Linked DNA regions of Homo sapiens. The protein of the gene in region 1 purifies or fractionates together with the protein of each later gene. This does not show direct contact. Each region holds a gene or a part of one and is shown in the gene's direction. Other genes may lie near its edges.

Region 1 (3,656 bases):
GAGGCAGTTGGATCACTTGAGGTCAGGAGTCCCAGACCAACCTGGCCAACGTGGGGAAGCCATGTTTGCTATGCAGGCAGTCCTTACCTTGCAGGGCTCCAGTATGCACAAATTTCAATTACCACAGTTAAATAACACCCATTCCCCAAAAATATAGTTCCAATTTTAGTTACCATTCTATATTAACCATAATGGCATAAAGCATAAACTCGGGCTGCTGGCTCTTCAGGCCACCAACCATCGTAGAAATAACAGATGCACATCCTATCATGACCAACGGCATCATTTCTTTCAAAGGCTGTTGTGATCGGTCACTGCGCCCTTGTCATTCTTTTTGTGCCCACCTTGCGGAGACATGTGGCTGTGTTGCCTCCTTGTCTCCCAGGGACAAACCCACATGACATTTTACAAAAATGGGTAATTGAAAGAGGGAGTTGGTGAACAAAGGTAAAAGTGCAGTAAAGAAATGCAAAGTGATAGTGTTCAACGTAAAATTTGAATTGAATGCAAGACTGTGGGAAGTTGATAACTGCCCCTGCTGATGTGAACCAGCGGTCCTTAGTGAAGGTGAACTTATGCACATACATCAAGAGGTTGTGACAAAAAGGTTGAAAATGTCCCAGAGAAAGCGACACTGTCAAAAAACAGCATTGAAGGAATACTGGGAGATATTTTACAACATTGAAAGAACAAAAGCTAAAACATTAGCAGTCGATCCAAACTTAGAAAGGAATGTGACAATTCTTCAAAACAGAGAAACTATATTTTCTCTGTATCATAAGTTACATGACTAGAAGGCAAACTATTTAACCTACTCTCGATCGTTTTTTTACAAAGAAATGACACTTTAATTTTTCATGTTTCTAACATTTTAAACTACAGTAGAAGTAAATATTAGTTGTAATTTTGTTATTTTCTTGTACGTGTATAATGACATGAGTTTTCTCATTGATTTTAAAATTACTATTTTTAATTAATAATTGAAAAATTGTATATACCTGTGGAGTACAGTGTGACATTTTGATCTATGTATATGTTATGGAATGAGTAAATCAAGCTAGTTTCCCATCAGTTATTAAGATCTCTTCGCATGGTCTCAGCTTACACAAAGTGAGACCTGCCTATATTTGTAGATTATAAAAGATTTAACTGAGTTCTGAAAGCTTTGACTATTTGTTCTTCCCTGTTACAAGCCAGTGTTTCTCATATATTTCAAACCCATGACTGGTCTATTGGTATCTCACCAGGTTGGGTAGATTATGCCCCCTCTTCAACTCCGGCGCCTGGCAACGCAGATCCTGTGCTCATCATCTTTGGCTGCTTTTGTGGATTTATTTTGATTGGGTTGATTTTATACATCTCCTTGGCCATCAGAAAAAGAGTCCAGGAGACAAAGTTTGGGTAAGTCTCCCAGCTAAAAATGTTTGCCCACTGGTATTGACAAGGTTGTTATACCAAGTGATTATGCCTTTCCTGTTGGGCCAGCTGCTTACATTGCTCCCAGATGGCTGCCCTGCCTTATGCATACCCTGGGCTCAGGCAGCTTCCTGACTTACGCCATGGTCTACAGAAGCAGCTGCCAGCAAAAGCCAGGCCTGAAAAGGGTTCCTTTACAGAGAAGAGTATCAGTAGGCCTTTGCTACTCAAACTGGATTGCTGTTAAGTGAGGACTTTTATTAGAAGCCTTAAAAATAGGCCGAGTGCGGTGGCTCACACCTGTAATCCCAGCACTTTGGGAGGCCAAGGCAGGCGGATCACTTGAGGTCAGGAGTTTGAGACCAGCCTGGCCACCATGGCAAAATGTCATCTCTACAGAAAATACAAAAATTAGCTGGGCATGATGGCACACGCCTGTAATCCCAGCTACTTTAGAGGCTGAGGCACAGGAATTGCTTGAACCCAGGAGGGTTGTTGGCAGGTTGGAGTGGGACAGAATGAGTGAGGGGTGTATGGCTATACTTTGGAGGGGGCTGAGCCTCCCTCTTTCATTGCTCCACCTTCAGAATGCTACTAGAACATCCCACTCGCTCCAAGACTTGCCATAGGCGTGGGAAGGGCTTAAGATTGGCAGCCAGGCTACGCTTTATTTGTGTTCATCCCAGTCTTAGGGGTCAGTTACTTTAGTCTTTATAAGCCTATTCTTACAATTGTTATACCTTAGTATGTGAATTCTAAGAATGACTATTTTAAAGAAGTGGACAAAATCTGATCTAAATCTTGAACATATAATTGACTAAAATACATCCCAGGATCTTGGTGTGACATGTGGGTTCATCATAAAACAAGTACAGAGAACCTCTGCAGAAGCTGCAAGAGTAGCTCATTAATATGTATTAAAGGCCTGCTAGGCACTGGGCACTGCGGTAGCCTGGAATACAGTGGTGAACAAAATCCTGCCCTCATGGGGTTCACAGTTCATGGGGAGTCAGGCAGTAGTCAAGCAGTCACAAAATAGATTAAAAATGGCAACTGTAATACATTCTATATAAAGGGGTAAGAATGTGTCAGAAAAATTTGGCTGCATTAAGAAAGTCAGGGAAGGCCTTTGTGCAGAAGTGGCTGACACCAGAGCTAAGATCTGAAGAAAGAGCAGGTATTCATTAGATGAGAGAGAAGAAGAGCATTACAGCCAGAAGGAGCAGCACATGCCACATTACCAAAAAGTGGGGCTGCTGAGTACAGCAAATATATTAACAAGATTACAATACTATTTCAAATATTTAGAAATAAAACTATTTCCAGGAACCATTAAACTCAGCAGAAGCTTAAAACAAATGAAAGACTTGTAACAGGTTATTGTTATCTATGTCGAAGTCAGTTCCCATGGATCCTTACTACAAGATCTATTCATTTGTTCCTTTTGTAAAACCACTTTCCAGCTCATTTTTAAATGAAAATACTTTTATTTTTACTTATAAAAGTAACATTATATTTTTTTAAAAATCAGATTATATCGAATAGTCAAAAGGAGAAAGTGAGGCCCATTTCAGGCCCATAGATGGTGTTGGTTGCTATTTTGGCATACGTCTTTCCAAGTGCTTTGCTTTGTGTACATCAGTATTTTTTTCAAAATTGTGTTATCTCTTTAAAATAATCTATGTACCTAAGGTAACTTGAGATTAAATCTGTAATCTAGACTTTCAAATTCATAATACTTTCCCACCAATTAGTCTAAAACAGTGACTAAATGGATTATTAAAATAGACTTCATTTTTTATTTTTAAAATTAATTTATTTTTTTGAGACAGGATCTTGCTCTGTCGTCCAGGCTGGAGTGCAGTGGTGCATTCATGGCTCACTGCAGCCTTGTCCTCCAGAACCCAAGTGATCCTCCCATCTCAGCCTCCCGATTAGCTGGGACCACAGTCACATACCACCATGTCTGGCTAATTTTCTTACTTTTTATAGAGATGAGGCATCTCACTTTGTTTCCCTCGCTGGTCTTGAACTCCTGGGCTCAAGTGATCCTCCTGCCTCAGCTTCCCAAAGTGCTGGGATTACAGGCATGAATCCCAGCCTTATTTTTTAGAACAGTTTTAATTTTACAGAAACATTGAGAAGATAGTACAGAGATTTCTCATATGCTCCATACCTAGTTTCCCCTATTATTAACAGCTTACATTATTAGTGTCACACGTGTCCATGTGAAGAGACCA
Region 2 (3,656 bases), on another chromosome or scaffold:
AAAACAAAAAGAAATTTGCATCATGCTATAAACGTAATCTTGAATCTTCTCAAGACTGTGAGCATTTCTCCATTTTTTCCTTAATGAAAGTACAAAATCTAATGGTTGAACTGGATTCCATCATATAGATAAGCTGTAATTCCTCTATTATTCGGCAGAGTTGTCTAGTTTATTTAATCCTTGTGTGTAAGTGATTGCATACATCAATTGATTAAAGTACAGCTGGCTGTAAATGGTAATTTTGTGTCCACAAAGTTTATATATTAGCCTTTTGTAGAAATTATGATATTTTTAAATTGTGACAGAGGGCCTGGCTCTTCAAACAAAAATAATACTCATTATACCCCCACTCTCATCCCTGAAAAAAGCCATATAGGTTAGTTTGTAAGAAATATTTTAAGATGTGACTACTCATCAGCAAATTTTTCTGTTGATAAAACTGGATTTGAAATTTTAATTTTGTTTATCTAGAATAGGTACATCTTTTATTTTCATTTACTTAAAACTTCTTGATTTTAATCTTTCAGATTTCTTTTTTTGCTCTTTTAAGAGGACATTTCGCTACTGATTGTGATATTTTGTTTTGCAGAGTAACAGCTATCCACCAATGTCAGATCCATACATGCCTAGTTACTATGCTCCATCCATTGGATTTCCATATTCTCTTGGGGAAGCAGCGTGGTCCACAGCTGGAGACCAGCCTATGCCATATCTGACAACCTATGGACAAATGAGTAATGGAGAACATCACTATATACCAGATGGTGTATTTAGTCAACCTGGGGCATTAGGAAATACCCCTCCATTTCTTGGTCAACATGGATTTAACTTTTTTCCTGGTAATGCTGATTTCTCTACATGGGGGACAAGTGGATCTCAGGGACAATCAACACAAAGTTCTGCTTATAGTAGCAGTTATGGCTATCCACCTAGTTCTCTTGGGAGAGCTATTACTGATGGACAGGCTGGATTTGGCAATGATACTTTGAGTAAGGTGCCTGGCATTAGCAGTATTGAGCAAGGCATGACTGGACTGAAAATTGGTGGTGACCTGACAGCTGCAGTGACAAAAACTGTAGGTACAGCTTTGAGCAGCAGTGGTATGACTAGCATTGCAACCAATAGTGTGCCCCCAGTTAGCAGTGCAGCACCTAAACCAACCTCCTGGGCTGCCATTGCCAGAAAGCCTGCCAAACCTCAACCGAAACTTAAACCCAAGGGCAATGTGGGAATTGGGGGTTCTGCTGTACCACCACCTCCTATAAAACACAACATGAATATTGGAACTTGGGATGAAAAAGGGTCAGTGGTAAAGGCTCCACCAACCCAACCAGTTCTGCCTCCTCAAACTATAATCCAGCAGCCTCAGCCATTAATTCAACCACCACCATTGGTGCAAAGCCAACTGCCTCAACAGCAGCCTCAACCACCACAACCACAGCAGCAACAAGGACCTCAGCCACAGGCCCAGCCTCACCAAGTGCAGCCTCAACAGCAGCAGCTGCAGAATCGCTGGGTAGCTCCTCGTAACAGGGGAGCAGGCTTCAACCAGAACAATGGAGCGGGCAGTGAAAACTTTGGTTTAGGTGTTGTACCTGTCAGTGCTTCACCTTCTAGTGTAGAAGTGCATCCCGTGCTGGAAAAGCTAAAGGCCATAAACAACTATAATCCCAAAGACTTTGATTGGAATCTGAAGAATGGACGTGTGTTTATAATTAAAAGCTACTCTGAGGATGACATACATCGTTCCATTAAATACTCTATCTGGTGTAGTACTGAGCATGGTAATAAGCGTTTGGATGCAGCTTACCGTTCCCTGAATGGGAAAGGCCCACTCTATTTACTCTTCAGTGTGAATGGCAGTGGACATTTTTGTGGAGTGGCTGAAATGAAGTCTGTTGTGGACTATAATGCGTATGCTGGTGTCTGGTCTCAGGATAAGTGGAAGGGCAAATTTGAAGTTAAATGGATCTTTGTCAAAGATGTTCCCAATAACCAATTACGGCATATTCGCTTAGAAAATAATGACAACAAACCGGTTACCAATTCAAGGGACACTCAAGAGGTACCCCTAGAAAAAGCTAAGCAAGTGCTTAAAATAATTGCTACTTTCAAGCATACCACCTCAATCTTTGATGACTTTGCACATTATGAAAAGCGTCAAGAAGAGGAGGAAGCCATGCGTAGGGTAAGAATATAGTAATTTTTTGTTTGGGGTCTTTGTATTGCTGGTGGGGTGCATGGATGGGTATATTCTGAGTTTAAGAACTTTCTGTGAAGGAAACCAACTACTTAAGAAACAACTCTACAAACACCCTTGAAGGTATCTATGTGTGTCCTATATGAACCATTTCTTCTTTCCTTTCCCAGGGTAACTCACGCTGAGTTAGCCTCTTGCTCATTCTTCATACTCCCTAGATGATAAAGGCCATTGGGCCTCAGTGTTTATCATCAAAGCTGAATGAATTTTGGCATTTGTAACTAAACAGACTTCATGAACTAACCAGGGGCTCTAATCATTAATATTATTAATCATACTAACATAGGAGAAAATATATTTAGAGTTTGAAACAACTTTTTTTTTGAGATGACATCTTGCTGTGTTGCCCAGGCTGGAGTGCAGTGGCTATTCACAGGTGCAGTTATGGCGTATAGCCTCAAGTTCCTGGCCCCAAGCAATCCTCCTGCCTTAGACTCCCAAGTAGCTGGGACTACAGACCTGTACCACTGAACCTGGCACTTAAAACAAGTTTTTATTTATTTATATTTTATATATTATTTAATTTTTTTTCAGACAGGGTCTCTCTTGTCCCGGCAGGAGTGTACTGGCGTGAACATGGCTCACTGCAGCCTTGATCTGCTGGGCTCAAGTGATCCTCCTACCTCAGCTTCCCGAGTAGCTGGGACTACGGTCACACACCACCACGCCTGGCTAATTTTTGTATTTATTGTAGATAGAGGGTTTCACCATGTTGCCCGGGCTGGTCTCCTGAGCTCAAAGGATCTGCCCCTACCCCTCTGCCTCCCAAAATGTTGGGATTACAGTCCTGAGTCACTGCACCCAGCTGAAACAACTTTTAAATAAATGTTTTACTCTAATTTTGTGTTTATAAGAAATTACATATATATATATATATATATATATTTTTTTTTTTTTTTTTTTTTTTCTTTTGTGAGATGGAGTCGCTCTCTGTCGCCCAGGCTGGAGTGCAATGGAGTGGTCTTGGCTCACTGCAACGTCCGCCTCCCGGATTCAAGTGATTCTCTTGCCTCAGCCTCCCGAGTAGCTGGGATTACAGGCACACGCCACCATGCCTGCCAAATTTTTGTATTTTTAATAGAGACGAGTTTCACCATGTTGGCCAGGCTGGTCTTGAACTGCTGACCTCGTGATCCGTGCGCCTCGGCCTCCCAAAGTGCTGGGATTACAGGCATGAGCCACTGTGCCTGGCAAAATATGTTTTTAAAACATAAAACTCTTGAAGTATTTTTATAATTTTTATACTTAAAGCACTTGTACAAAATAGAGGCTTTGCAGAATTTGATTCCTAATTCTGTTATATACCCTCTGTAAGATTGAGGGAGACATTCCTGAAATAAAACATGCTGTTTATCCTTGTATTATATTGGCCAGAATATTTTTATTTTTATTTTTT
Region 3 (3,656 bases), about 98 Mb from region 1:
GCAGAAATTGTTAAATAATGGGAGTGTGTCTGTCAAACAACGTCGTTTCTTCTAAAGAGTGAAATAAGGGATCATAGTGGTGCTTTAGATTAAATAATCCAGATGTGGTTGAAAGTCTGATTTGCCTTATCAAGGATGCTCCTCCGAAGTGAATCTTAACGTATCCTTAAACTATTGTTGTTGTTGTTAATTCTGATACTGCCTTCTTGCTGTTTTCAGTGTTAAGATTTTATCTCATTTTTAAAAATGAGATTCTGATGTGAGTGGTTAGGTTTATTTCTACAATCCTTACATGGTAAAATAAAATGTTTATACCCTTGTAACTTTCCCCCACATTGTTCTGAAATTTTAATTACTATGTGAAATTCAAGTCTTAGAATCACAGCAAGTTCTTAAAATTATTGAGGGAGACAATAAAGTGAGTTTTTTGGGTTTTTGTTGTTGTTGTTGTTGTTGTTTGAGATGGAGTTTCGCTCTTGTTGCCCAGGCTGGAGTGCAGTGGCACGATCTCGGCTCACCACAACCTCCATCTCCCAGGTTCAAGGAATTCTCCTGCCTCAGGCTTCCGAATAGCTGGGATTACAGGCGTTCACCACCATGCCCGACTAATTTTGTATTTTTAGTAGAGATGGGGTTTCTCCATGTTGGTCAGACTGGTCTCGAACTCCTAACCTCAGGTTATCCGCCCACCTCGGCCTCCCAAAATGCTAGGATTACAGGCATTAGCCACTGTGCCCGGCCTTCAGTGACTTTTTAAGACACTGATTCAGTGTGTGCAGAAGTTTAAAATTATTTTTCATTTGCCTTTAAGAAGAATAACGTAATGATTGTGTGAGCCTCACTGTTTGCACAGCATCTGTGGACCTTCATATGGGTGGTACTAACCCCACAGCCCCAGCCTTAGTGTATTTTCAATCCATATCTAAACTATTACTTGCCTTAGACCCTTGATCTGCTAAAGAATTAGTAAAAATGTCAACATTTACATCCCTGAATGAGAAAGACTTGTGATACACTATCTCATTTAATCCCCAAAGTACCTTTTGAAATTGGCGTGGCAGTTATTATTATCCTGACTTTATGGAGGTATTTGAAACATAAAGAAGTTATGAGTTGAGCAAGATCAGCTAATAGCGGGTAAGGATGTAGACAGGCTCATTCATTGAGAAACATTTGTGAAGCCCGTATTCTCTGCCAGACACTGTGCTGGACGTGGGTTTATGATGCTAAGTTTGATATTCTTTCTATTCTGCTTAAGGCTCTTGATATACATGAATTTGTTTTGCTTTTCTTTGGCTACTTCATTTTTTTTAAATCCTTTTTTTTAAATAAGAGCAATTAGATGTTTCTTTAGGGAATTTACCTTGCTGCAGCTTGAATACTAAAAATCCAGTAGTTTGAAAGCACCAAACATCTGATTTGTGCTTAATTTAATAAAAAGACTTTATTATAATATTGGTTTAAATAATAGACGATTACTATTAGGTGGAAAATTACTGTGAGCCAGTTTATCATTGGCAGTCTGTTTTAGTATTTAACTAAAAATTTTATTTAAAACATGTATAAGTTACAACGGTATTTTATAAATTTTGTTAATGTGATGTTGTTGTTTAAGAATAGAAAATAAATTGTTTAGTCTTCCAGGTGGAAAAATATGTCCTAAGTGGAAAAGAAATACCTTTCTGTCTTTGATAGCTTATAGTCCAGCAAGCTGGGTGACCCACATTATTTTGATACTTGTTTTCCTTTAATATCTAGCTGACTCCTGAGTTCTCACAACGCTTGACCAATAAGATTCGGGAGCTTCTTCAGCAAATGGAGAGAGGCCTGAAATCAGCAGACCCTCGGGATGGCACCGGTTACACTGGCTGGGCAGGTATGAAGTGCTGACTGTGAGCTGGCATAAGCATTGTGCTTAAGAGCCAGAGCATTTTTCCGAGAGCTGTCTGTCTGAATGGTACACCCTTAAATGCTTCCTGCATCTGCATATGAGTAATTGCTTCTGGGAGAGTGCTGTGCCCTCAACCCAACCAACCATGGTATCTTCTGGGTTTTTAATAGTGCCCTGAATTTAGGGCATGGTAAGCATATTCATGTAATTCATGCCTGACATTTGGATGGCTGCTATACTTGTGAGGAGAAAAATTGATTTTCAATATTACATAGTTAATTTGCAGATGTAATTTCAGTGGGAAGAATTGGGAAGAGTTCCAAAATACAATGCCTGAAGCGGAGGTAATGAGGATTGATCTCAGGAATAAAATATGTCCAGAAGCATGTTTTAAAAAGTTAACCCGTAACAGGAATCCATACAGGAATCCATACAGGGTAAAGTATTACTTCCATGAACTAATCCTCCCATATGGTCATTGCTGTTTGGTTTGCAATTGCTGCATTGCCAATCTCAATCATTGAGAGGCTGGAGGAGGTTTAGGAAGAAACAGTGCATTGATGTCAAAAAAAGGTGAGAAAGAGAAAAATCAAAGAAGAGGCTGGGCGCAGTGGCTCACACCTGTAATCCCAGCACTTTGGGAGGCCGAGGCGGGTGGATCACGAGGTCAAGAGATCAAGACCATCCTGGCCAACACTGTGCAACCCCATCTTTACTAAAACTACAAAAATTAGCTGGGCATGGTGGCTCATACCTGTAGTCCCAGCTACTCAGGAGGCTGAGGCAGGAGAATCACTTGAACCTGGGAGGTGGAGATTGCAGTGAGATGAGATCACTCCACTGCACTCCAGCCTGGTGATGGAGCAAGACTCCATCTCAAAAAAAAAAAAAAAAAAAAAAATCAAAGAAGAAAAGTTGAAGAACTGCAATTAATTTACCAAATGTAGAGAAACAAAAGACAGCTGTGTAATCTGGAAGAAAGCATAGTCTAGAGACTCAGTGTTTCCCATTCGCTTTAAAGAGTGGGCAAGGAGGAATAAGCTTGCAATCCAGGGAATTTTAATTTGATTTTAAGGAGTGGAATTTGTCATAAAAATGGCCTCATAGCAGAGATTGTGATTCAGTAGATCTTGAGCAGAACCCAGGAATTTGCCTTTTATAGCCATCAGTGGTCCTGATGCAGATGGTGATCTACAGACTGCAGTTTGAAAGCTTTCTGAGAGAAATTTATTAATAATAGCAATCTCTTATTAGTCTTCCTCTTTAGTACAGGTTGAGCATCCCAAATCTGAAAATCTGAAATCCAAAATGCTCCAAAATTTGAAGCTTTTTAAGCTCTGATGTGACACTCAAAGGGAATGTTCATCGAGCATTTAGGATTACCGATGTTCAGATTTGGGATACTCAACTGGTAAATATAAGCCAAATATTTCAATATTTGAAATCCAAAACACTTGTCCCAAGGATTTCAGATAACGGGTACTCAACCAATAATGACACATGATTCTATTTTTTTTTAAACAAGGGTAGGGAAGACAGATTAAACCAGTAAAATTAAAATCTCAGGGACTTTTAAAGTCAATGTTTTGTAAAAATAAGACTGGACTAGATAATGTTGGACCATTTTATTGTTTTATCATTTTTATGGATTGTAGAAGCTTAACACAAAGTTAAAATGAGAATGAAATGACAGGATTTTGTTTCAAGAAGGAAGGTATAACAGCTGCCATTTATTATCTACTGTGTTCCAGGTGTGATGTGGTTG

The links.
Region 2: the proteins of MERTK (region 1) and YTHDF3 purify together in Homo sapiens (affinity purification with mass spectrometry; one large-scale study listed by BioGRID and IntAct). This does not show direct contact.
Region 3: the proteins of MERTK (region 1) and LANCL1 purify together in Homo sapiens (affinity purification with mass spectrometry; one large-scale study listed by BioGRID and IntAct). This does not show direct contact.

What each region holds. Positions count from the first base shown.
Region 1 is NC_000002.12:111,996,076-111,999,731, forward strand, and holds part of MERTK (tyrosine-protein kinase Mer precursor), read left to right. Parts: intron 1-1,247; coding exon 1,248-1,401; intron 1,402-3,656. UniProt on the Homo sapiens protein: Receptor tyrosine kinase that transduces signals from the extracellular matrix into the cytoplasm by binding to several ligands including LGALS3, TUB, TULP1 or GAS6.
Region 2 is NC_000008.11:63,185,558-63,189,213, forward strand, and holds part of YTHDF3 (YTH domain-containing family protein 3), read left to right. Parts: intron 1-589; coding exon 590-2,188; intron 2,189-3,656. UniProt on the Homo sapiens protein: Specifically recognizes and binds N6-methyladenosine (m6A)-containing RNAs, and regulates their stability. M6A is a modification present at internal sites of mRNAs and some non-coding RNAs and plays a role in mRNA stability and processing.
Region 3 is NC_000002.12:210,470,179-210,473,834, reverse strand, and holds part of LANCL1 (glutathione S-transferase LANCL1), read left to right. Parts: intron 1-1,758; coding exon 1,759-1,876; intron 1,877-3,501; exon of another isoform or gene 3,502-3,656. UniProt on the Homo sapiens protein: Functions as a glutathione transferase. Catalyzes conjugation of the glutathione (GSH) to artificial substrates 1-chloro-2,4-dinitrobenzene (CDNB) and p-nitrophenyl acetate.